5 separate regions of the Homo sapiens genome follow, and all the other regions are reported to be linked to region 4. The links are microRNA targets in miRTarBase. Many come from high-throughput screens and were not tested one by one. Region 4 holds a microRNA gene; each other region holds the end of a gene's coding sequence.
Evidence for each region. The annotated mature microRNA hsa-miR-5011-5p reads UAUAUAUACAGCCAUGCACUC and lies in region 4 at 1,304-1,324, opposite strand. An mRNA with a match to its seed (bases 2 to 7 or 8) in the 3' UTR can be bound and repressed. Matches are read on the target gene's strand: a 7mer-m8 pairs with bases 2 to 8, a 7mer-A1 pairs with bases 2 to 7 and ends in A, and an 8mer does both.

Region 1 (4,061 bases), not on the chromosome of region 4:
GTGCAAAGTTCCCTCTCTGCTGCTTTGAATGTTGACAGCCCAACTGTTGTTCTCGGAGTCGTTTAGCAAAAAATTGATTTTGTTGCACTGGAAGAATTATTCTGCTACATCTCTTTTAAAAAAGAAAAAAATCCACATTACTAAAGCACCAGTTCGGTTACCAAAATTGTAGATGTGGTACTTACCACGGCATGAAGGCAATGGCCCACGGTCTTCTAAAAATCCTACAGATCTATGCTGAAATTTGCCTCCAGTGATGATGGGGTGCACGTGTTCATTTGAAATATTCTCTCCCAAAAAAATAAAAATAAAAATGAGAGGAGCACAGCTTACATTTTGATGGGCTACCCACAGTGTCTGCAGAAGATACAAAAGCTCCACTAATTCTAGATGCAATTTGAAGTCCATTGAGGAAAACTATCTTCATGGTAACAATATTTGTCAGGCTGGGGGTAGGGGGGATAAATTAATCCTCAATATGATATCTGTAGTGCTGTCTTTTGATAAGTAAGAAAAGAAACCAAGTATTCCACTCATGTCAACAATCCAGGGCAAAAAGGAGAATGTATTTAAAATTGGTTCACAAAAATTTAAAGGCAAAATAGAGAACACATGTGGTCCTTGAACACATAATAGGATTTACTAAATCTCGATTTCTTAAAAATAATTTATTGCTCTTAATAGTCTTTTTATTATTATTCTACAACAGAAGATACTCAAAATTCAGAAAGAAAGACTGTAAACTTTAGTTTGGCGTTCACACAGTTAAAATACCTGCATTTAACCTACAGAACAACAAGAATTAGGCGGATTAAAGATGTGTTACTGTTGTAACGCAGAACCTGTGAACAAGTTCTTTCATTTCATAGTATTTTTATTGCTTTCTATCTACTTAGAAATAAGAAGCCAAAAAATCAAGCAAGCATCCGACAGGACAAACAGTGGATTCACTCAGAACACAATATGCTGGTGATAAATGAATGCAGCTATCAAAATTAGCTGCATTGGCCTGGGGGTGAAATCCATCTTACAAGATCGTGTTGGGCGAGAGAAAGGAAAAGAACAATTGAGTAGTAGGTGTATCATGTCTTCCAGAAAAGTCATGTCAGCCAAACAGTAATCGAATCTCAATTTAGAAACTTGAATACACACTCCAAATGTTACTGAATTCCATTCCAGGGACTCCACACTCAGATGAAATCCTGATGATCAAAATGGAGGTTTTTCTGAAGTTTTTATTAAATTTAGCAGAAGCAATGTCATCAAGAACAACACCATGGTCACGTCAGAGGCCATGCTAGTGCAAGTAGAAACACTGCTTCTGCAAAAGCTGAATTTCCCAAATGAAGCACTTACACTCCAACCTGACAATTGTCATGCATCCTAGGTAGAAAATTTCCACTGGCTTTATTATTTTCATCATCTCATAATTTATAATAAATAGGCTATCTGCAACTGATAAATATGTCTCTTTAGTAAACAAAGGAATGAAATATCAGTATTTATACAGGATGCATAACTGTAAAAAATACAGATAAATACCATCGTCATACTCTGCCAAGGGAAAGAAATACTGGCTTCAAAGATAGTCTTCAGACACACATTAATTATTGTAAAAATCATACTATAATTATTACCTCAGCATTTTGTATCAAATTAAAATCACAAAAATTAAAACAAAACAGCATTTTAAAAAGATTTTTGACTTCTAGTTTCAAAACTACTGTTGATAGAGAAAATAAAAACATTTCTTAATGGTTACCCATTGAGAGACTTTACATAAAATCATGATATCTTCTAGAAAAATTTTAGATGAGAAAATTTCATTCCCCTAACAAATCCAGTGTATAAAACTTCAAAGAAAAACAAGCGACAAGAAAATGTGGAAAAATATCGCAGAAGTGGTTAATACCTTTAGGGGACTAGGATATTTCTTGACAAGATGCTTAGATTGAAGCTCACCTAAGGGATGGATGTGCGGAAAGCATCATTTTGCTCTTGTTGCACTCAACAGACACACACACTGTCTTTTTGTTTTTACAATCAAATATATATAAGCAGTAAGTTCAGCTTCTAAATATGTTAGTGTACAATAATTGTTTCACCTCATAATTACATTTGAATATTCTTGATTAAGAAAAATTTAGCAGTTTTGAAAAGAAGGCTGCATTTACAGTGCATAGCTGTAACAAAAAAGAACATTGTTGTATAGTATATACATAAAATAAAAATACTCCATTTAACATCTGTAAATACTTAACTACATCAGAGAATGTAGCAATTACACTATCTGAACACATCTCAGAGAGTTCTACCCAACTCTCATTAGTAATGTAACCCGGTGTCCGCTCCTCAGAAAGAACCGCTGAACAAGCTGCACGCTTGACCATTGACAAGGCTTTTGAAATTTGCAGTGGAAGATCAACATTTTGGACATTTACATGGGTGTCAGGATTAAGGATGAACTACAGAAACTTCAAAATGTTAGGAAACTTTAGCATTCTGGTGCCCGCAGTATCCTCTCCCACCCAGATTCCATGGCAAAAGGAAAAAGAAAAAAAAAAGAGAGAGAGAGAGAGAGAGAGAGAGACAGGATATTAGTTCTATGGAACCTGTGGTTTCTTCAGGATTGTCATATAATCATTACGTTATGAGAGAAAGCTTGCTTCAAGTTGATTCTGCACTTTCTTAAAAAAACAGAGTACAAAGGCTGATGCCCAGACATCAGCGGCTGTCATTTTAGGGTGGTTTGTGGTTGGTTGGTTGGTTGGTTGGTTGTTAGTTTTCTTTCCTTTTTAATTTATATATATATATATATATATATATATATATATATATATTTCCTTTTGAATAGAATACGAACATTTTGAAGTTCTAGGTTTTAAGCGTGTCTTCATGGAACTGCTGCCATTTGAAATGGTTTGCCCTTGCGCATTCTGGTCAGGTGCCCCCAGTCCTCACATGTACCCACACATACTTCCCCTAAACCAAGCACACACACCACACACATACATACACACACACATACATGCACACACGCACACTCCATCACCAAGAGACTCCAGGAAAAGCAAAGCTGACACCCATGAATAAACATGTGCTTACTGGATATCATTCTGTCTCTTGCCTCTTCAGCAGCTGTGTTCATGTAAACCATTGTTGTTATTGTTGTTGTTGTTCTTGTTGTATTGTTGTTGTTTTGTTTTGTTTTTGTACAGAGAGTGTAAAGTAGGAGAAATTCCTAAGTATGACTTGCAATAGTCTTTAGGGAAGGACGCGCTGTCCCATGAGGTATTCGCCATCCCTCTGTCATCCTCAGCTAGGGAACATGTTACCTGCGCAAGCTTCTCTGAGCTTCTTTCAGTAAACTATCAAAATCCAGAGAGTCATACTTGCTCTTGGTGGAAGCAGGGTCAAAGTCATCTGAGTTTGAATCTGAAAAAAAACACAAGCCAGTTTAGATACACACTTTGCTGATGGCCATTAACTCAATCATTCCAATTCAAGATTACTGGATTCGATAACAACTCTTCCAATCAATATACTTTAGAAAACAATAGTCAGATTTTATTGGATATATATGGATATATAGGAAGAGGATGGGGAGTAGTGAGCTTTCAAAAACACGCACCTGTTGACTCGTTTAGGCTTAAACACCCTGGGAGTTAGGCAGAGCACACGTTAATATATCTCTGGCAGATAACCACCCTCCCCTTCCCCCGACACGTCAAATGACTTGCCCATGGTTCCTCAATAACTTAGATGTAGACGTGAGAGTACAAGCTGGAACTAATTTTCCTATTCAATGGGATTAATTTAATTGAGCATAAAATCCAGTAGAGTATGAGAGAAAGAATCATGAGAATTTCCCCTAAACTTCAACCTGATGCTTCTCTTTGAGGCAGGAGGGGACATATGATGTGGTCCTCTACTTCCGTACCTCTTGGCCTCCCAGAATTTTTGGTGCAAATTCTCCCCAAATTGGAAGGTTGAGAGAAATGCTTCACATCCCAGGAGAGTAAATTCGGAAAGAAGAAATAAAGTGCAGGTATAAATAAAGC
Region 2 (4,061 bases), not on the chromosome of region 4:
CAGGCCCCAAAGGGGAGCCGGGCCTCCCAGGGCCCCCTGGGTTCCCTGGTATAGGGAAACCCGGAGTGGCAGGACTTCATGGCCCCCCAGGGAAGCCTGGTGCCCTTGGTCCTCAAGGCCAGCCTGGCCTTCCAGGACCCCCAGGCCCTCCAGGACCTCCAGGACCCCCAGCTGTGATGCCCCCTACACCACCACCCCAGGGAGAGTATCTGCCAGATATGGGGCTGGGAATTGATGGCGTGAAACCCCCCCATGCCTACGGGGCTAAGAAAGGCAAGAATGGAGGGCCAGCCTATGAGATGCCTGCATTTACCGCCGAGCTAACCGCACCTTTCCCACCGGTGGGGGCCCCAGTGAAGTTTAACAAACTGCTGTATAACGGCAGACAGAACTACAACCCGCAGACAGGCATCTTCACCTGTGAGGTCCCTGGTGTCTACTACTTTGCATACCACGTTCACTGCAAGGGGGGCAACGTGTGGGTTGCTCTATTCAAGAACAACGAGCCCGTGATGTACACGTACGACGAGTACAAAAAGGGCTTCCTGGACCAGGCATCTGGGAGTGCAGTGCTGCTGCTCAGGCCCGGAGACCGGGTGTTCCTCCAGATGCCCTCAGAACAGGCTGCAGGACTGTATGCCGGGCAGTATGTCCACTCCTCCTTTTCAGGATATTTATTGTATCCCATGTAAAAACAAAAAAACAAAAAACAAAGAAAAGAAAGAGATTTTATAGAAGAAAATGACACACCAAAAAATCCAAATGAAAAACATAATTGCTTCAAAACACTTACACAGTTGGAAAGTTATATGTAAGTGAAAATTTGGACCATTGTGTACAAATAAAAACTAAGATGCATGTTTAATACTCCACACAGCAGCCTGTAATTGCGAATGATGGGATAGAGTTATGTATCAAGTACTGACACTTGGTTGTACCCACTGGAATCATATTAGCTGTTTTATGTTATATGCTTCCACAGTAACCTGCTTATTCAGATCAGTCAAAATATATCAGTATGAAAGATCATAGCTAATGAAAGGCACTCACTCATATTGTTTACTTTAAAATATTTATAAATATGCCTTAAAGAAATACAAATGATAACAATTACATACCGTATTTACTTGCTTAATTTCCTCTGTATTTGTGTAGATACTTTGACATGGAATATATGGTGGGGAGACCCGTAGTGTTACCGCCCCAGTGGGAGGGGGCCCTGGGGACCCTGGTAATGCTTTAGTCAAAGGGATATCTCTCTTGTATCAGAGGCTGTGTCTTTTAGTAACAGGAGTCCTCGTCAGAATTGCGTGTCTGTTGTCTCTAAAAGAATGGGTGAACCAATCGGCCTTTGTGAATTTATTCAGTGCCTTCTCTGTACCAAGCACTGGGTAAGGCACTTTTGTGGAGCATTAGACAGTAACCCTCAAGGAGCTAGAGAACCGGATGGGAGACATGAGCAGTAATTAACTCACTTGTTCCCCAGAGTTTCTATTTGTTTTGATTTTCTTTTTCTGTGACTTATTTTCCTATTTTCTTTCCTCCATGTAATTTTCACTATGGCCCAACTAATATAAACACCTGGAAATTACAAGGAAAAAAAATTCTTCCTCTAATAACTTTCCAAATTTGTGGAATATTTATTTGTAATAGCAGTTATCAGTTATGCTTATATAGCATTAAAAATTCTCCTCCTTTGACTACACACACAACCACAGTGTGGTTCTAATCATGGAGATATCAGTAATTTTTAGTAACTGAATTTTGAGGACATTTCTCTGTTTAGCATGTATGCAAACTGATATGTAATCTGAGGTTCCAAAGTCAATTTTTTTCTTTTTTTTTTGAGATGGAGTCTTACTCTGTCACCCAGGCTGGAGTGCAGTAGCACGATCTTGGCTTACTGCAACCTCTACCTCCTAGGTTCAAGCAATTGTCCTGTCTCAGCCTCCCGAGTACTGGGACTACTGTCTTGCGCCACCATGCCTGGCTAATTTTTGTATATTTAGTAAAGATGGGTTTTCGCCATGTTGGCCAGGCTGGTCTCAAACTCCTGGCCTCAAGTGATGCACCTGCCTCAGCCTTCCAAAGTGCTGGGATTACAGGCATGAGCCACCGTGCCCGGCCAAAGTCAGCTTTCAAAATCCAAGCCATAATTGGTGAGGGGGGAGTTTCAGAATTACATAGAAAAATTAATATTTGAAAAAATAATTCTGAAATTTCGAATTTAAAAACAGATGTGCTGCTTCTGGGTGTAGGTAGTAAAAGTATAGGAAAAGAACTGTTTCCTTAGAAGCGGACTGTGGAAGGGCTATGTAGAATGTCAAAGGGCAACAAGAGCCTGTGTTTTTAATGTCATCCTGTACTCGGCACAAATCAAAGGCCAATACAAGTCTGAAAAGCAGAAATAAATATTTTTCCAGGTTTTTGCTTGGGCACATACTAACTGCTTTGGGCATTCTAATCTGGTCTCCAAACACCAAAGACCCATTTCGAGCCTGCTATTAGCCTGCTGCTGACTCTATCACTTGGAGCAATAATGTGGGGTTATGGTGGTGGAATCTTGTATATTTTTGTCAAAAATAAAACCATGAGTTAAGGGGATAGATATAGATGGAAAAATACACAAATAAATACGGTATGAAAACACATGGAAATGTGTCTTTGTCAAATCTGAATCATTATTACCATCACAAAAATTCTTCTCTTGGCCAATATCTCATTTCCCTATATAGTATACAAGCACCATTTCTTCTCAATTTTTAAGAAGAGAAATTAGTCCATTACCACAGGGGTTCTTGTCACTACTAATTATACAACAATCTTTTCCCAACAAAAAGATGTCCTCCACAACCTTTGTTTTCAAAGCAGACAGCATCTATGTGGCCAAATATACTTTGGGTTGTTCTTGAGGATACTGGTTTTGGGCTGATGACTATGGTGGGCAGCATGGATCCATTGGGCTCCTTCTGCTAAACAGCCACATTGAAATGGTTTAAAAGCAAGTCAGATCAGGTGATTTGTAAAATTGTATTTATCTGTACATGTATGGGCTTTTAATTCCCACCAAGAAAGAGAGAAATTATCTTTTTAGTTAAAACCAAATTTCACTTTTCAAAATATCTTCCAACTTATTTATTGGTTGTCACTCAATTGCCTATATATATATATATATGTGTGTGTGTGTGTGTGTGCGCGTGAGCGCACGTGTGTGTATGCGTGCGCATGTGTGTGTATGTGTATTATCAGACATAGGTTTCTAACTTTTAGATAGAAGAGGAGCAACATCTATGCCAAATACTGTGCATTCTACAATGGTGCTAATCTCAGACCTAAATGATACTCCATTTAATTTAAAAAAGAGTTTTAAATAATTATCTATGTGCCTGTATTTCCCTTTTGAGTGCTGCACAACATGTTAACATATTAGTGTAAAAGCAGATGAAACAACCACGTGTTCTAAAGTCTAGGGATTGTGCTATAATCCCTATTTAGTTCAAAATTAACCAGAATTCTTCCATGTGAAATGGACCAAACTCATATTATTGTTATGTAAATACAGAGTTTTAATGCAGTATGACATCCCACAGGGGAAAAGAATGTCTGTAGTGGGTGACTGTTATCAAATATTTTATAGAATACAATGAACGGTGAACAGACTGGTAACTTGTTTGAGTTCCCATGACAGATTTGAGACTTGTCAATAGCAAATCATTTTTGTATTTAAATTTTTGTACTGATTTGAAAAACATCATTAAATATCTTTAAAAGTATGTTTCTCATCTTGTTCGTATCATTCAGTTGACACTGAACCTCACAAGTATTTTTAAATTCGTACTCTCATGAATTAGCTGCTGAAATAGAGACCTAAAATAAGCATAGCTTATACAGAACAATTTATTCCTCTTTGACTTAAGAGCTCCTAGGATAAGCAGTCTAGGACTCACATGGTAATTCCAATCACAGCCCCAGGCTCCTTCCATCTTATTGCTCTTCTACATCAAGGGTGTTGCCCTCATCTCCATGGTCCAGGATACTAACCATCAGTCACATTCTATCCC
Region 3 (4,061 bases), not on the chromosome of region 4:
AGAGACTGATTTTTTTCTTTGAAGTTATAACATTTTGTTACCTGAACTGGCTTCTTTTTTTTTTTTTTTTTTTGTCCTGAGATGGAGTCTTGCTCTGTCACCTAGGCTGGAGTGCAGTGGTGCAATCTCAACTCACTGCAACTTCTGCCTCAAGGGTTCAAGCAATTCTCCCGCCTCAGCCTCCTGAGTAGCTAGGATTACAGGTGTGCGCCACCATGCCCGGCTAATTTTTTTGTATTTTTAGTAGAGACAGGGTTTCACCATGTTGGCCAGACTGGTCTTGAACTCCTGACCTCGTGATCTGCCCACCTCGGCCTCCCAAAGTGCTGGGATTACAGGCGTGAGCCACCACGCCTGGCCTGAACTGGCTTCTAATTGGTTGGTTAAGTAAGAAGAGATTGAATGAAAGACAGACTTTCAATTCTAATTCAGATATTCTTTTCTACACAGAAACATTGTCAATTGTTGCTGTGGAACTAGAACTGAAGGATTTCATGAATGTTCTCCCAGAAGATGGTACTGCAACATTTTTCTTGCCATATCTTCTCTATTGCAGTCGAAAGAAACCATTGACTTAAAGGTATCATTTGAAAAATACCATAATGGCATTTGAGACTGAATTTCTAAAAATTGAATGCCAAAGTACAAGTAGAGGAGTTTTTTATTTTATATATCACACACACACACACACACACACACACACACACACACATATATGATACAAATGCTTTCAGGCTGCTTACCTTACCGTGTAGTGGTAACTATTCACTTCTTAATTTATGACCTCAATCAATTTAATTGTCTAGAATGTAAAAAGTCTTTAAGACATAAGAATTCCTCAAAGAAGCCATACATTTTTTAAGGTGGGGATTGACTTTTATTCCAAGGAACAACATCAGTTCACTGTTGTTGGAGACATGACAATCATTTTCATCCCAAGAACACTTTAAGGAAACATTTTACAAGTATGCTTGAAAGAATGTCACTAACTGGTCCAGAATTTTATCTTCTTGATTTTTCCAGATTTCTCTATGTTTTTGAGAAAGATGTTAATGTTTTGCCATGGTAAAAGATTTCAAACCTCATTTTTTTTGTTCCTTTTCTTGTTACTTTTAAGAAAACTCATGCTCTGTTTCTCTGAATCAAATGAAGTAGAAGTTTACAAAGCTAACTTTCTTCTTGTCTAGCTATTAACATGATTTGTCAAATGCATGTTTTTTTCAGCCAAAGCCTTGTTTCCATTTTTGTTGATGTGTACTCTTGCTCTTTTAGCTAGAGTGTATGTGAAAATAAAGAAATACATCATTGTATTCACAACCATGTGTCTTCATTTATAACTTTTTGTTTAAAAAATTTTTAGTTCAAGTTTAGTTCATTGATATTATCCTCTGAATGCAGTTAAGGCTGGGCAGAAATTCTACTCATGTGACATCTGCCACAGGTCTATTTTGAAGCTTTTCTTCTAATGGCAATGTTTGTCCTTACCAGGATTTAATCTATAGAATTGTCTCTCAACTCTGCTTTTCTCCAGTTCCAGATAACGTCCTTAAGACCATCTGTTCAGGGGTTCACAAAACTCAAATTTGTGTCATTCTATTTTATTTATTTTATTTTTTATTTCCTTCCCTCATACCTTGCCCATTCCCTCTGAATATTAGGTGTGATGTCAACAGCATGTTAGAAGGATCAATGGGAAGGCAATGATTGAAAACATTTCAATGAACCTTAATAGTGTTCCTTTGAGGAGCACCCAGGAGAATATCTGGTCATAGATCTTTTTTTAAATGCAGTTTTATAAAACCCTAACAGCGGTGATATCATTAGACTGTATGAATCAGTTTTATTACCTAGTGTACAAGTGTCAGTCATGTATCATTATATAGTCTGTTGATCTTTCCATTTGCAAAAAATTAATAGTTTTCCCCCACAAATGTACAAAGTTGTATGCTTCCAGTCTTCTTTTAATGTTTATAGTCATTCCAAAGTAACATTCTATTTTACACTTTCACATACATTGTTATGAATCATTGGTTTTTCTCTTTTTTCCACTTATCACCAATTTATTTCATTCAGCCAGATTTGGTGTCTATAGAAAAAGAAATTTTAAGACCATTATTAAAAATAATATATGGTTAGAAATTAGTAGATGGTTCTTTAAATGTATTCCAATTTTTAATGTTACTTTACTCCTGATTCATTTATATTTTTCTGCTTTTTATATGTTTAAAAATCTCTCATTCTATTGCTGCTTTATTTAAAGAAAGATTACTTTCTTCCCTACAAGATCTTTATTAATTGTAAAGGGAAAATGAATAACTTTACAATGGAGACACCTGGCAGACACCATCTTAACCAAAGCTTGAAGTTAACATAACCAGTAATAGAACTGATCAATATCTTGTGCCTCCTGATATGGTGTACTAAGAAAAACACAACATCATGCCATGATAGTCTTGCCAAAAGTGCATAACCTAAATCTAATCATAAGGAAACATTAGACAAACTCAAATTGAAGGACATTCTACAAAGTGCCCTTTATTAAGGAATTATTCAGAGTAAAGGAGACTTAAAAGACATGGCAACAATGCAGTACATGATCCGGGATTTTCTTTTTCTGTAAAGAACATGATTAGGATTATTAGCGAAATTTGAAGATCTCTAGTTTTTAAATCATTGTTGCTTTTCTAATTTCGATCATTGTATTGTGGTCATGTACAAGAATATTCTTGTTTTTAGGAAAGATAGTTGTATGTGTATCTATACACGTCTGTGTGTGTACATATAGAGGGTGAGCATGAGAGGGAGATAGGGAAAAGAATGAGAAAGCCAATGTGGCTACGCACATCATTAATATTTGGGGAATCTGGGTGAAAGGTATATGGGAATCTGAAATTATGTCAAAAAAGTTTCAAAAGTTTCTCTTCATTGAATTAATATGTTGTTATACATTCAGTAAGCAAACTATTGTATTGGATTTGGGTACTTAGCTAGAAATACAGAATATATAGTCCCTGCCTGTAAGAAATTTAAAGCTAAGCAGGCTTTTCTAAGACTCATAATTAATGTAAACTTGCTCAAAGCTTTATTGGACTTATTTAAAGATGATTCAGACTGATAAACATGGCCACTGATTTTATGGGCCAAAGATAGTTCAAACTATCTTTTTTTATTCAGTCTGCTGCTTTCAGTCTCATGCAATACCTTTTCTCTTTGCAAAAGTCAAATTTCTCTTTAATTTTTTATCTAGTGTTGATTTTTACTTCATATTTGCTATTTGTTCTGTAATTTTTACTATAGCTTTAAAAACTATCTCGCCTTTCTTAACCAAGCAGTAATCTCCCTCTTCTTTCACGGTTGTTACACAGGAGGAATCTTCTCTGTGGCTGTGTGTGTAGGGTTACCCTGTAGTGCCATACTCTGCATGCCAGGCATTTGCACACATGAATTCCCCAAATGCCTCCATGTTACTTACTCACCATTATTTTTTTGAGCAAGACCATCCTTTTGTGTGGTTTACATGCAACCACATGTAACCACATGGTTGCAAGTGTTATTTAAAGACTAAAGTTTTCTTTCTCATATTTGGCTCTCTTCACTTTGTTCAAGTTATTGGCGTTAAATTTAGTGGCTTGTCTGTTAGAGTCTTTGATATTCTAGTGTTATCAGTGACTGCTCTAATAAAAAGGGCATTAATGGAAATAGTTTTTCATGATGTAAGTTGTTTGTGTAAGACCCAGGAGCAGAAATTAAAACTTTCCATTTGCACTAAAGGTTAACCTTTCAGGGCTTTTTAAATCTTCAAATATATTTACATTTATATTTTCTTCATTTGTATGTTCCCTTTTTCCCCATTTTAGGGAGGAAAGACATAGATTGGTTTTCTTTACATAATTTCCTCCCTTTGAATTTACCATTTCTAATTACAACAATCCTCAACTCGAAAGACCCAGGAAAGACCAAAGCCTGCAGCCACAGTGCAGGAATCTTACCAAAAAAACTGTTCATTTTTCTCCATTTTAAGTGTGTGTGTGTGTGTGTGTGTGTGTACCTACACATGGGGA
Region 4 (4,070 bases):
AGAAGAGATTTGGAATATTCCAAACATGAAGAAATGATAAATGTTTGAGGTGATGTTTATCCTAATTACTCTGATTTGATCATTACACTTCATATACATTTATCAAAATATCACTCTGCAGATTATAAATACATACAATTAATATGTGTAAACTAAAATGCAAAGGAAGAAAAACCCAACAAAGCAATTTCTCCACACGTTACCTAATCCACAACAAATGGCTTCTGAAGTTTACCTCAAGTAAAGGCCATAAATATGACTCTTTAAGGTAGAAATCTTAGAAGTAAGAGTTACTTAGCTTAATGCCCTCTAGGTTTATCCATATGTATTTCATTGTAGTGTTAGTAGCAATAAAGTATAGAAACGACCTAATTGCTCATTGAATGGTGACTGATAGTGTTACATATACAGCCATGCACTGTGTATTGCATCAGTCAACAAAAAACCACATATATAAATGTGGTCCAATAAGATTACGATACTGTGTTTTTAGTGTAATTTTTCTTTGTTTTGGTATGTTTAGATGTACGGATGCTATTGTGTTACAATTGCCTATAGCATTCAGTATAATAATAAGCTATACAGAGTTGTAGCCTAGGAGATACAGTCTATGTCATATTGTCTAAGTGTGTAGTACGTTACACTGCTGTGGGACAGGCAAGGCCCCAAACTGGGGCTTAGCCAGGGAGGATTTCTTGCTTAACCCCGGAAAAAATTCAAGGATGAGCTAGGAGTCTTAGCAATCGTTTATTGAATGGTACTGCTCCTTGCAGAGCAGGGCTAAATCATAGGCAGTGCAATCAGAGTCAGCAACATATGGTCTCTTGGCAACGGTATTTATACTCAGCGAGACCCACATTCAATTGCATGCAAATTGAGGGGTGAGCCAATGCAAATTGAGGGGCAGGTTGTTTAGAACTTTCTAAGGCAGGTCAAATGCATGCAAATTGAGGGGTGAGCCAATGCAAATTGAGGGGCAGGTTGTTTAGAACTTTCTAAGGCAGGGGCAGTAACTTTTAGGTTGTTGCCATGGAAAGAGGTGGTAACTTCTGGGTTGTGTTGCCAGGCTGCTCATATTGCTCATTAGCATAAGACACTACCACCAGCACCATGACAATTAAATTGCAATGAGTAGTTAGAGATTGCTTTTGTTGACATCTGCCACTTCCTATCAGTTTCTTCACTTCATGCTCTCTGGCCAGATCCTGTTTTGGTTAGCAGGGTTGTGACCAAAAAAAAGTCCTGCTGAAAGATGAATGGATAGTGTTATATATACAGCCATGCACTGTGTACCCAAACTACAGAGTGCATGGCTGTATATATAACAGCATCCACTCAATACCATCTAGGTTTGGATAAGGACACTCCATGATGTTCAAACAATGATAAAATTGCCTTAAGGTACATTTCCCTGTTAAGCAATGCATGACTGTGTGTGTGTATATATGTATATGACCATGAAATATTATTCAGCCTTAAAATAGAAGGGGATTCTGCCATATGAGGCAACATGAAAGAAATAAGTTCTATTGTTGGGGGTGAATAGCCATGAGAGTGGAGAAGGCCATCAGTTAATCCATGGTTTGTGGCATTGGCCAAGCATGACAAGCAGTGAAACCATATTCAAATATGGAATCAACTTTTCTGACGATGACAACAAACAACTGTTGGCTTTACTATACAAGTCAGAGGCAATTGTAAGGCTCTTTGTTGTTTAATGCCCCACAGGTAAAACTTTTCTGTCCAGGGAATATTCTAGAGCAATACTGTGCAAGAGACCATTGTGTGATAACACGTGTTCTACCCTTGCATAGTCCAATATAGTAGCCTGTAGCCACATGTGCCTTTGAGTATTTCAAATACAGCTAACACAATGGAGGGACTGACTTTTTAATTATTTTAATGTTTAGTTAATTAAACATTAAAATTAACTTTAAATAGCCAAGTGTAGCTCCAAGAAACATCTGGAGCTACCAGGAACTGGAAGAGATAAGAAAGAATTGTCTCCTAGAATCCTGGATTAAATGCAATCCTGCCGACACCCGAGTTTGAACTGGCTTCTAGAACTGGGGGAGAATACATTTCTGTTCTTTTAGCCATTTGTTTTATGCTAATCTGTTATGGCAGCCTGAGGAAACTAAAACAGATGGCTTCGGGGAGAAATTTGAAACAGAAGCAAGAAGTAAAAACAGTAAGAAACAAACAAGTATGTATTCATCACAGAGGTACAGAAATTAACCATCAAATATCCCAGGCCCTAGGGGAGGAAGTGCCACGGTGGCAGCAGCGCTATCTCATCAGACTGTTCCTGTGGGGGGATTTTACTGCCATTCTGGAACCTGGTTTCCATGGGGCTGCCCTGTTCTGAGCCTGTTTCTTTAGCCTTCCAATAATTATATGATTTATCCAATATAATCTATTACCTGGTTTAGGTCAATTGGAATGGATTTCAGTCATCTACAACCAAGAACACTGACAGGTATACTAACACCTGTCAGATAGTATTGTGAATTGTGGGGAAAGTGTTCCTAAACATGACAAAACACAAGAAAGCATTAAAAAATGGTGACAGATATGAGTATTTATGAGTTAGTTAATAAACATATATGACAATTTATATGGAAAACAAAGTATGTGATGCATGATGGATTAGGAAAACATACAATATATGTAACGAAATGATATACAATGTCAATATTTATTTTTAAGAAGCAATACTAAATTACAAAATAAAATATATACAATTCTATAGGAATAGAATGCAAATTACCAATACATACATGAAAATTAGAAAACTTTTGCAATTAGAAAAATATAAATCAAAACAATAGTGTTATACTACTTTTTTCTGAAATTAAATTGCAAAATTAATATATCCAAAGATACTCAACATGATCCATATTAGACATGGATGTGTGAAGAAGGCACTCCAATCTAGGTTTTTAAGGATATAAATTTGTAAAGCCGTGTCTCAAGAATGTGTGACAATAATTCATGAGTGGCAATTTAGTATACGTTAAGCTTTGATCCAGGTAATTTAATTAAGATCTATCTACAAAGATAAACACACTTGCACACAAGTTTCTAAGGGTCAGATGGCTTACTGTACAATTTTCAGGATGTTATTGTATCATTGGTCACATCTTAATTTCTTAATTGTCCATGCCCATGGTTTTATCAGAGAAAATGAGCTAAGAACCCCAGAGACAATGGAGAGTTTGCAATGTAGTTTTTCTTTAATTTTTCATTTTAAGTTCAAGACGTCCGAAGGTGTATCTACTGGCTAGAAAAAATTGATATGTTTCCAATTACATTTCTATACATACATGGATGTGTTTGTGTGTATAGCTTTTTTGTCACAAAACCTGAGGACATACAGATAATAAATGCCTGAGAAGTATGTTGCTCTTCTTAAAATAAAACACATGATGAGTTTCCCTTTTGTTTGAGGAAAGCAGAACAGTGCTTTGCTTCGCATTGAGAATTTATGATTGCCATAAGAAAGCAGTGGTGAGCAGATAAAAGCTGTCACAAAAGAAATTTAAATTGAGCTGAAATTTTTTTTTTTGGCAACAGCTAAATTTTAAAGTTATAAGCAGAGTAACCTTGGGAAATGCCATATATATTAGTATTCTTATTTAACAATGATTGTAATTAAAAGAGCTCATTGCATTAGAAAAGAAAAATCATGCTTAAGACTCTGAAAGTTTAGAATTCCAATAAGGTAAAATAAATGTTACTTCATATTAATGTGGATACTTCATAAATTTTAAAAGTATTTCTGTCTCATCAACTAGAACTCAAAACTTATAGGGCTAAGTACACATTTTTAATTATTTTCTAGTCTAATATTTGAAAATCCACTTTCATTTAAATGATTTCATGAGCTTAATTACCCTAATATACATGGTAGAGTTACGTACATTATCCAGTTTATAGAATAGAAATAAATAAATATATGTTTATTTATTTGTACTGCTTCTGCTTTCATAAATGTAGATGTTTTTTCCTTTTCTTTTGGATAATCATAGCTCTGGTAATATACAGGTGATGTAATATATTTCTTTTTA
Region 5 (4,061 bases), not on the chromosome of region 4:
GCAGTGGCATGATCTCGGCTCATTGCAACCTCCGCCTCCTGGGTTCAAGCGATTCTCTTGCCTCAGTCTCCCACCTCCCAAGTAGCTGGGATTACAGGCATGTGCCACCACACCCAGCTAATTTTTGTATTTTTAGTAGAGACGGGGTTTCACCATGTTGGTCAGGCTGGTCTCGAACTTCTTACCTTGTGATCCACCTGCCTCAGCCTCCCAAAGTGCTGGGATTACAGGCATGAGCCACCGTGCCTGGCCAAGTTTTTACTTTTGATAAATATTTGCTAGTCATCAAGGTGACAGCAGTTCTTAATACAGGTTTTCCTTTTATTAATTGCCTTAAACATTTTCCAGCTTTAAAATTCTGTCATTACAGGTTTTGAAATCTAAGTTTTTCTCTTATCAGGTAAACACTCGATAATCTGGATAACTGACTAGCACCATTATGATCACCAGTATTGTGGCTGGAATGGAAGAAGATCACCTTGGTGTTCCTTGTTTGGAAGATTATTTCCTCTGAATTTCTGGGCTTGGTCTTCCAGTTGGCATTTGCCTGAAGTTGTATTGAAACAATTTAATGAAAATATTAAATATTTGGTTTCAAAAGGCAGATTTATCTTCTCCCAACATTCTGTTATTTCTGATACTTTTGAAAAACTAATAAAAACTAATAAAAGAAGCGTAAAAAGTGAGTTTACATGTTGAGGAAAAAAATGGCCCAATATGCTCATCACTGATAAATGCTCCCTGGCCTTAAAAACTACCAACATATAATATATATGCTGTCTTAAAAGTTAATGATCCAAGTGGCACCTCTCTGAACCTACTTTGGCTTGGGAGGCTGCCCAGTTAAAACAAAAATAAGTTAATGGTACAGAAAGAGAATGAAAAATGAAAGCCTCCTTTTATCCTATCATCCTAATTCCTTTTCCCAGTAATAATGACTGCTGTGTTGGATTCCTTCTGCAAATAAAAGTGTATACATATATGTAGCAAATCTTACTTAAACAAAAGGGTTTCTTAACTAATGTCTTGTTCCAGTGATTTTAAACATCTTGATTGCCACTGTCCTGATCTAAGCATCAGTGTCATCTCACCATGAAGAGTGTCAAATCTGTAACTAGTCTCTTCCCTTTAGCCACCTTCCAATCTATTTATTTCGCACATATTGAAGTCTAGTGATTTTTTTTTTTTTAGAGAAAAGCTCATCACCCAGGCTGGAGTGCAGTGGCGTGATCATAGGTCACTGCAGCCTTGAACTCCTGGACTTGAGCTAAGAATAAAGAATCCTGCTTTATTCTTTAGAATAGCTACAGCTACAGGTATGTGCCACCATCCCTATATATATATGTGTGTGTATATATATATATATATATATTTTTTTTTTTTTTTTTCAGAAATGGGATCCCACTATGTTGCCCAGGCTGGTTTTGAACTCCTGGCCTTAAACAGTCCTGCCTTGGTCTTCTAAAGCCCTGGGATTAAAGGCACTTAGTCAAGCACTCTTTTTGTAAAAGCTTTCATACCTTTGAGTAAAGGCTAGACCTTTTAAGGTCGATCAAAAGTTTGGCCTAAACAATCTGGTATTTCAGCTACCATCTCCTTGAGTATTTCACAAGGAGTTTCATGAAAGCAACTAGGCCCCTCTAGCATTGTGGAGAAAGGATTTCAGCCAAACAGTCTGAAGCTCCTTTTGTGTTCATCATGAAACTGAAATAGTTAACTAACTTGGTAAGTGTCTAATATTTTTAGATAAAGATTTCTGTATTATCTGGAATTTAGTACTTCAATTTATTCCTCACTTTGATAAGAACGTGAAATATGTTAATTCTAGCTGCCATAAAACAGTTGAATCAGGTATATCCTAAAATCATAAGTCAAAATACCTAATCCATATTTAAACATCTGTCAGTTACTCAGCACAAGATGTTTTTTTTTTCAGTGGCAGTGCCTTGCCATGTTGCTTCGGCAGGAGTGGTGGCTATTCATGTGTGAAGATCATAGCTCACTATAACTTCAAACTCCTGGGCTCAAGTTTGCCACAGCCTCCCAAGTAACTAGCACTACAGGCCTGTGCCACTGCACCCAGATAGCAGAAAGTTTTTTTTGTTTGTTTTTTTGAGACAGAGTCTCGCTCTCACCCAGGCTGGAGTGCAATGGTGCCATCTTGGCTTACCACAACCTCCGCCTCCCAGGTTTAAAGCAGTTCTGCCTCAGTCTTCCGAGTAGCTGGGATTATAGGTGCACGCTGCCACACCCGGCCAGTTTTTGTATTTTTAGTAGAGATGGGGTTTTACCGTGTTGGCCAGGCTGGTCTTGAACTCCTGACCTCGTGATCCGCACATCTCGGCTTCCCAAAGTGCTGGGATTACAGGCATGAGTCACCATGCCCAGCCAAGTGTTTTTGTTTTATGTGTTTTGACACAGGGTCTTGCTCTGTCGCCCAGGCTGGAATGCATTGGCACAACTATGGCTCACTACAGCCTCAACTTTCCAAGGCTCAAGCAGTCCTTCCACCTCAGCCTCCCTAGTAGCTGGGACTACAGGCGCACACCACCATGCCTGGCTAATTTTTGTATTTTTTTTTCACAGAGACGAGGTCTCGCTGTGTTACCCAGGCTGGCGTTTAATTCCTGGGCTCAAGCTATCCTTACCTTGGCTTCCCAAAGTGCTAGGATTACAGGCATGAGCCACCATGCCCAGCCTAACAGCACAAAGCTTTTTGTTCATAGGTTATGCCTAAATAATACAAATAGTGTGTATAGCAGCATTCTTCGAATTCTTCCAGCCGGACGTGGTTGCTCACGCTTGTAATCCCAGCACTTTGGGAGGCCGAGGCGGGTGGATCACAAGGTCAGGAGTTTGAGACCAGCCTGGCCAACATGGTGAAACCCCGTCTCTACTAAAGGTAGGAAAAAAAAAAAAGCCGGGCATAGTGGCAGGCACCTGTAATCCCAGCTACTGGGGAGGTTTCAAGAGTAGTATGAACATTGTATTACCCTCCACTTAGATTTAGCTATTAATTGACCTTTTGTTACATAGTTAGGTAACAGAAGTCATTGCAGTATGCAAAATGGAGACAACACCCAAAAACTTTAGCACAAAGGAAGCCTAATAAGTTTTACCCATGTTAAATGGTTATGAAGTACTGTATTAATACGTCCATCTCAAGAAAAAAGAAAACAATTGTAAGAAAACAGTTCTGTAATGTCCAACACCCAATCCGTGTTCAGATTTTTCTGACAATCTCTAGAGCAGGGGTGTCCAATCTTTTGGCTTCCCTGGGCCACGTTGGAAGAAGAATTCTCTTGGGCCAAACCATAAAATACACTAATACTAACAATAGCTAATGAGCTAAAAAAAAAAAAAATACATATATAAAATGTTTTAAGAAAATTTACGAATTTGTGTTGGGTCACATTCAAAGCTGTCCTGGGCTGCTTGTGGCTTGTGGGCTGCAGGTTAGACAAGCTTGCTCTAGAGTGTCTTTTTTTTTTTTTTAATTTTTTTGAGATGGAGTTTTGCTCTTGTCGCCCAGGCTGGAGTGCAATGGTGTGATCTCAGCTCACTGCAACTTCCGCCTCCCAGGTTCAAGCCATTCTCGTGCTTCGGCCTCCCTAGTAGCTGGGATTACAGGCACGTGCCACCACATCTAGCTCATTTTTGGTTTTTTGTTTTTTTTTTTTCAGTAGAGACGGGGTGTCACCATGTTGCCTAGGCTGGTCTTGAACTCCTGACCACAGTTGATCCACCTGCCTCAGCCTCCCAAAATACTGGGATTACAGGTGTGAGCCACCATGCCCAGCCTGAGCCCACACCCAGCCACCTTTTTCTTACTCAGCCTCTCAACAGATTGGATGATGCTGACCAGCACTGGGGAGGGCTATCTGCTTTATTCAGTCCACCAATTCAAATGTTAAATCTCCTTCAGAAACACCTTCACAGACACTCCCAGAAATGTTTTAACCAAATATCCCTTGGCCAGGTTGACACATTAGGCATCATAAATCTACCCACTGTCAACTTGGCCATCATATACATCTTTTTTTTTTTTTTTTTTTTTGAGA

Region 1: the mRNA of PPARGC1A is a reported target of hsa-miR-5011-5p. Seed matches in the 3' UTR shown: 7mer-A1 at 2,834-2,840, 8mer at 2,832-2,839, 8mer at 2,830-2,837, 8mer at 2,828-2,835, 8mer at 2,826-2,833, 8mer at 2,824-2,831 and 13 more.
Region 2: the mRNA of COL8A1 is a reported target of hsa-miR-5011-5p. Seed matches in the 3' UTR shown: 8mer at 3,159-3,166, 8mer at 3,161-3,168, 8mer at 3,163-3,170, 8mer at 3,165-3,172, 8mer at 3,167-3,174 and 7mer-m8 at 3,169-3,175.
Region 3: miRTarBase lists HPS3 as a target of hsa-miR-5011-5p. Seed matches in the 3' UTR shown: 7mer-m8 at 668-674.
Region 5: the mRNA of CCT4 is a reported target of hsa-miR-5011-5p. Seed matches in the 3' UTR shown: 7mer-A1 at 768-774 and 7mer-m8 at 769-775.

What each region holds. Positions count from the first base shown.
Region 1 is chr4:23,792,491-23,796,551 of GRCh38, forward strand. PPARGC1A (PPARG coactivator 1 alpha) reads right to left here. Exons shown (of 13, transcript NM_013261.5): 13 at 1-3,435. The coding sequence ends at 3,332. Among named protein-coding and RNA genes, the nearest start is that of PPARGC1A-AS1, 25 kb to the left of the region's middle.
Region 2 is chr3:99,795,445-99,799,505 of GRCh38, forward strand. COL8A1 (collagen type VIII alpha 1 chain) reads left to right here. Exons shown (of 4, transcript NM_020351.4): 4 at 1-3,773. The coding sequence ends at 692. Among named protein-coding and RNA genes, the nearest start is that of CMSS1, 20 kb to the right of the region's middle.
Region 3 is chr3:149,171,645-149,175,705 of GRCh38, forward strand. HPS3 (HPS3 biogenesis of lysosomal organelles complex 2 subunit 1) reads left to right here. Exons shown (of 17, transcript NM_032383.5): 17 at 451-2,088. The coding sequence ends at 578. CP (ceruloplasmin) reads right to left here. Exons shown (of 19, transcript NM_000096.4): 19 at 853-2,086. The coding sequence ends at 2,070. Among named protein-coding and RNA genes, the nearest start is that of HPS3, 44 kb to the left of the region's middle.
Region 4 is chr18:67,078,861-67,082,930 of GRCh38, reverse strand. MIR5011 (microRNA 5011) reads right to left here and starts at 1,347; the gene lies at 1,245-1,347.
Region 5 is chr2:61,865,046-61,869,106 of GRCh38, reverse strand. It overlaps CCT4 (chaperonin containing TCP1 subunit 4), which reads left to right. Exons shown (of 14, transcript NM_006430.4): 14 at 401-1,022. The coding sequence ends at 415. Among named protein-coding and RNA genes, the nearest start is that of FAM161A, 13 kb to the right of the region's middle.